Regions from separate parts of the Homo sapiens genome. Here region 2 is linked to region 1. The links come from fine-mapping of genetic effects on gene expression. A gene starts in region 1. The other region holds a variant in brackets. All regions are shown on one strand. Distances are between the middles of the regions.

Region 1 (2,805 bases):
AATGAGTGAGTGAGGAGAGGAATGAGTGAGGAGGGGAATGAGTGAGTGAGGAGAGGAATGAGTGAGTGAGGAGGGCAATGTGTGAGTGGGTAGAGGAGTGAGTGAGTGGGTAGAGGATTGAGTGAGTGGGTAGAGGAGTGAGTGAGTGGGTAGAGGAATGAGTGAGTGAGGAGAGGAATGAGTGAGTGAGGAGAGGAATGAGTGAGTGAGGAGAGGAGTGAGTGAGTGAGGAAAGGAGTGAGTGAGTGGGTAGAGGAATGAGTGAGTGAGGAGAGGAATGAGTGAGTGAGGAGAGGAGTGAGTGAGTGGGTAGAGGAGTGAGTGAGTGGGTAGAGGAGTGAGTGGGTAGAGGAATGAGTGAGTGGGTAGAGGAATGAGTGAGTGGGTAGAGGAGTGAGTGAGTGGGTAGAGGAGTGAGTGAGTGGGTAGAGGAGTGAGTGGGTAGAGGAATGAGTGAGTTAGCAGAGGAATGAGTGAGCCATCTCTCTTGCTTCTCTGGGGTCGCAGACCCCAGCCACCATCAATACCTAGCTCACTGAGCCCCATTCCTGCTCCTCTGGAAGTCCATCCACCCTGAGACCCCAGACACATTTTGCTGTCACACTCACCAGGCCCAGGTGACCCCAAAACCAGTTCCGTTTTGGGGGCTGTGGGAAACACTGGAGCCGGCGGCAGTTGTTATAGAAGGCATAGGTCCAAGCCAGGATGCGGGCGAGTAGCCAGGAGCCCACAACCAGCAGCAGGAGTAGCCATGGGGACGTTGCCACCGGTCTGAGGCCCAGCCAGGGCAGGCTCAGCAGCGACATCCTGCAGGGCAGAGGGGATGCAGGGTGAGGACCTGAGGCCCAGGGAAGAGCTCCGGGGACAGTGTATAGGGGCGAAGTCAGGAACTGCTGGGGGCAGGGCAGGGAGGGCTCAGGGGTGAGTAAACGAGGGCTGAGATCTGAAGTCCAGAAAGTCCCAACCAAAACCAACAACTAAGTGGCCTCCAGTAACCTGGTAACCACACAGAAAGGGAAAGAGATGGGCCGATTAGAGTCCAGAAGGGCCCCACCTGAATCCTTGGGAGTTTGCTAGGAGTCCAGTTACCAGGAAACCCCCAGTTTCCCATGCCAGCATCTTGGAGCCACCCCAGCCTTAGGCAGTCCCCTCTTCATCCCAGGCCAGGACCTTCCAGCCCTGCCACCCCCAGCCTGGTACCTTCTGTCGGGAGCAGCTTGTCCCACACAACCTCTTCTCCTCTTCTGCTGGGAGGTCTTTGGCCCTGGCCCCTGATCTAGGGAAGGCCGTAGGAGGCGGGGCTGGGCTGGGCTGGGCTGAGGCAGCCAATCCCCACAGCCTGGGTGTGTCTTCCGTGCCTGGGCAGCCAGCCAAAACCTGGGGTTGGGCCCACTGGGTGCAGCTCAGGGTGCCCCAGCACGAGCACTGAATTCTCAGGTCTCAGTACCTTCTTGGGAGTTTGCAGGGGAAGTTGGAGGGTGGTTAGAGGGGACTCTGAACCCCAAGTTTACCTCCACCCTGCCCTTCCAAGACAAGGGTGTTCAGATAAAAGCATATACTTATCATGACAGTTGGCAGCCAGCTGAGCTGGGCCAGGCCAACCCTTGTCCCAGATCATCTGGGCTCCTCTCCAAACATGGGCGGGGAGGATGTCAGGCACTACATCTTGGTGCAGACTTAGGAGATTCAGAGACAGAAGCCTCTCATCTCTGGCTTCACAGCCTGGCAAGAGTTCAAGTCCTGCCTCCTGGCAGCCCAGGGCCTGAGTTGAGGCCTGACTGCTTGAAGCAGGAAGAAAGAATCCAGCCCCAACCCCGCTGAGGATTACCTTCGTCAGATTCTGGGGATAAAGAGCCCAGCTGGAGGAGCAAACCTAGAAGCTGGGCTCAGCTTAGGAGGACAGAGCGGAGGCACAGGGGATGAGGCTGAGAGGGGCCTTGAGCTGACGGGGTCCAGGCAGGGGAGGGCAGAGCAAGGGGATCCCGAGTGGAGTCCTTGTTCTGCCCTGTCCTTTCTCTGACTGTGGGCAGTGTGGCCATCCTGGGCTCAGGCTTCCCATCTGGGAAATGGGATGTCAGATGAGGCCTTAGAGGGCGACGGAGGAAGGCTCCTAAGAAAAGGGAGCTCCAAAAAGAGGGACTGAAGGGAAGGGGATGACAACTAGCACTTGAGCTGCTGTGTGCCTGTCTCTACTCCATGCGAAAGACTGTACGGAAAGCACTACTGTGTGCACCTACTGTGTGCCAGTTTCACTATATAAAGTGCACTTACTGTGTATCAGATACTGTACATAAATTCTGTCTACTATGTGCCAGGTATGCCACATAAAGCTCACCTACTGTGTGCAGCATGCTGTACATAATGTAAGCTTACTTTATGCAGAGTACTTCATATAAAGCGTGCCTACTCTGTGCCATGTGCTGTATATAAAGCATACCTACTGTGTGTCAGGTGCTCCACATTGAGCATGTGTACTACGTACCTGGTGACCCACAGAAAGCGCACCTACTCTGCATCAAGTAATCTACATAAATCTTGTCTACTGTGTGCTGGCTATTCTACATATAGTGCACCTACTGTGTGCCAGGAGCTCCACATAAATACTGTCTACTGTATGCTGGGAGCCCTTCACAAATCCTGTATCTTGAGTCCCTGGCCCTTTATATAAACCATGCTTGCTGTGTGCCAGGTGCTCTAAATAAAGCACACCTACTGTGTGCCAGATGTTCCACATAAAATGCTTCTCCCGTGTGTTAGGTCCCCTACATAAAGTAAAACTACTCGGTGCAACATACTTGACATAAA
Region 2 (2,805 bases), 48 kb before region 1:
GAAAGAAAGAAAGAAAGAAAGAAAGAAAGAAAGAAAGAAAGAAAGGAGGAAGAAAAGAAAAAGAAAAGAGAAAGAAAAGAAAGAGAAAAGAAAAAGAAACATCTTCTCCATCTACTTCCTTTCACTGCATTCTGCCCTTGAGTCAGGGACTGTGCGACAAATTCCTCTGTTTCTTCCATCTGATCCCAAATACATGAAATCTGGCAGATACTCATTTTTTTAATGTGTATGTATTTATGCTGTACAACATGACGTTTGGATATCTGTATACACTGCGGAATGGTTCATTCAAGACTGTTAACATGTGCATTATCCCACATAGTTATCATTCTTTTCTGTGATGGCAATACTCAAAATCTACTCTCGTTAATTTTCAAATATACAATAGATTGTTATTAATTATAGTCATCATGATGCACTAGATCTCTTGGTCTTCCTGTCTAACTGAAATTTTATGTTCTTTGACCAACATCAAAAAGATGAAAGATAAAAAAAATGTTGGCAAGAATGTGAAGAAAAGGGAACTCTTGTAAACTGTAGGTGGGATTGTAGATGAGTACAGCCATTATAAAAAACAGTATAGAGGTTCCTCAGAAAATTAAAAATGGAATTATCATATAATCCAGCATATAATATCCAGCATATCATATAATCTGGGTATAGTATATACCCAAAGGATATGAAATCAGTATATTAAAGAGATATCTTCACTCCCACATTCATTGCAGCACTATTCACAAAAGTCAAGAGATGGAATCAACCTAAGTGTACATCAACGGATAAATGGATGAGGTAATAAATACACATGGAATACTATTCAGCCTTGAAAAAGAAGGAAATCCTCTCATTCACGACAACATGGATGAACCTAGAAGACATTGTGTCAAGTGAAACAAGCCACGCAGGTTCTCTTTAGTATTAATGGTAATTTATTCTAGATGAATTCCTTTTTTGGATCTTTTCACCTCAATGAGTTTCAGAGAAGGGAAAAGGGCTGTAAGCAGGAGCCTGCAGCATTTTCATTGCATTTATCTTGCGGTATCTGAATGACTGATGCACTGGTCTGTCTCCCTTCTTTGCCCAGAAGCTCTTAGAGGTGGAATCCAGGTCGCAGTCACCATTCTAGCACATATTAGGTGTGTCATAAATATTCATAGGATAACATTTTCACTAAAGATCGGA[A/G]GGCTGAGTTGGGTTGAAGGGCTCTTCAATGTCTTGGTCAACTTCTTGCTCAAGAGGTCTCCTCCATCTGAGATAAGCACTGCCTGACAATAAATATTAGTAGAAACAGGTAACCTCATGCTTGATCTGCTCTTTGGTAACAGGGAGAAATAGAAAGAGCCACACTGGCTGCTTAAGATGATGAGAGTGATCAGCCTCAACCCCTAAAGACTGTGCATGAGATAACTCTTATCTCCAGCTCAGAGGAAGTTCAGCCTCAGCTACCACACACTTAACAGATGTATCCAGAGCATTGGAGCTCATCACTGAGCCAGGAGCTGTGGACACTGCAATGGCCAGTGCAGACTTAGTGCCTGTTCTTGTGGACTTTACAGTGGAGGAGAGAAGGTAGATGATGAATAACTGAATTTCAGACAAGAGCAGGAGGAGCATAAGGAAGGGATGGTAGTGGCTACAGGAGTAGGCAAATGAATCCTCAGAAAGCAGGACAGGCTGATAGGAGAGAACTTCACGGAGGAGGTAGCACTTCATTTGAGTCATTCTGCAGAGGGAGAGGAAAGGTTGTGCACCAAGCAGAGGGAAGGGCATGTGCAAAGGACTTAGGGTGGGAAAATGACTGCTCATCCAAGGAACCGAAGAAGGCCAATATGGAAGGGGCCTTGGGCAGCTAGGAGTGAGGAGTGGCTCAAGGAGCCTAAAAGACAGGCAGAGGTTTGCATCCAAAGGACCTTTCCCCATAATCCATCAGACCTGAGTTGACACAGGGGATACACACATAAGGGCAGGTGGGTTCAAATGATGTCAACTACATCTACAAAATGAATTTCAGATTAACTGGAGAATAGCCATCCACATTTTAGAAGGGTTTTGCAACTCACAGACATGGAATGGGGTTGCAATGAGAGAGTCATTTGTTTGTTTTCTCTGCGATTATTTATTGAGCATCTATTAGGTGCCAAGCAGTGAGAACACAAGGTTGGGCAAATCCAGTGTGGCCTTATCTTCTTGGGGGGAACGTTGAGTAGAGAAAGATAGTAGGTATTGAACAAGTCATTTATATAATAAGGAGAGTGTGGTAAGTATTAGGATGGAGGAAGCAGAAGCCTGGCCCACCTCGGAGCTCTGGAGACCTTACCCTCCATCCCATCGGGCAGCACAAAATGCTCACAGGGGCCACTCTTGGCACCAAGTACTTTGCATACTTTGGTTCTGATGTCCAAGATGCTGTGGTGCTTTCTGTAACATTTGGCTATGTGGAGCTCTGGGACTATAGTGTCTTGGGGAAGAAAGAGCCACTTCCAATGCCTACCTATGTCTCTTGCTGCTAATCAGACACCTAAGTTTGGACCTGAGGCTAAATGGAAAACTCTCTGGGACCATTTCCCCAGAGTAAGATGAGCCGTGTTTCTGTCTCCACTTAATCCCTGAGCTATGCATTCAAACCTAACCTCCCTGCAGCTCTGTAGCTGATCCTTAGAGACCCTTTCATTTGCAAAAAAAAAAAAAAGAAAAAAAATGAAGTGGAGATGGAAATTGTGTGTCAACTTTTAATGAGTCACCAGGTGTTAGTGAAAATCCCATGGCTTGTTCACTATCAAAACTTAGAATTGGCTTCCTGGGGAT

The links. PIP is the estimated chance that this variant, and not a neighbour inherited with it, causes the effect. A credible set is the group of variants that fine-mapping cannot tell apart.
Region 2: its variant is the best candidate, but not a certain one, in a credible set for the expression of CYP4F12 in whole blood (INTERVAL, PIP 0.51).

The regions. Positions count from the first base shown.
Region 1 is chr19:15,671,531-15,674,335 of GRCh38, reverse strand. CYP4F12 (cytochrome P450 family 4 subfamily F member 12) reads right to left here and starts at 1,249. Exons shown (of 13, transcript NM_023944.4): 1 at 1,201-1,249; 2 at 609-807. The coding sequence starts at 806.
Region 2 is chr19:15,719,994-15,722,798 of GRCh38, reverse strand. No RefSeq gene overlaps it. Among named protein-coding and RNA genes, the nearest start is that of OR10H2, 6.6 kb to the left of the region's middle. The variant A/G (reference allele first, on the strand shown) is at 1,183.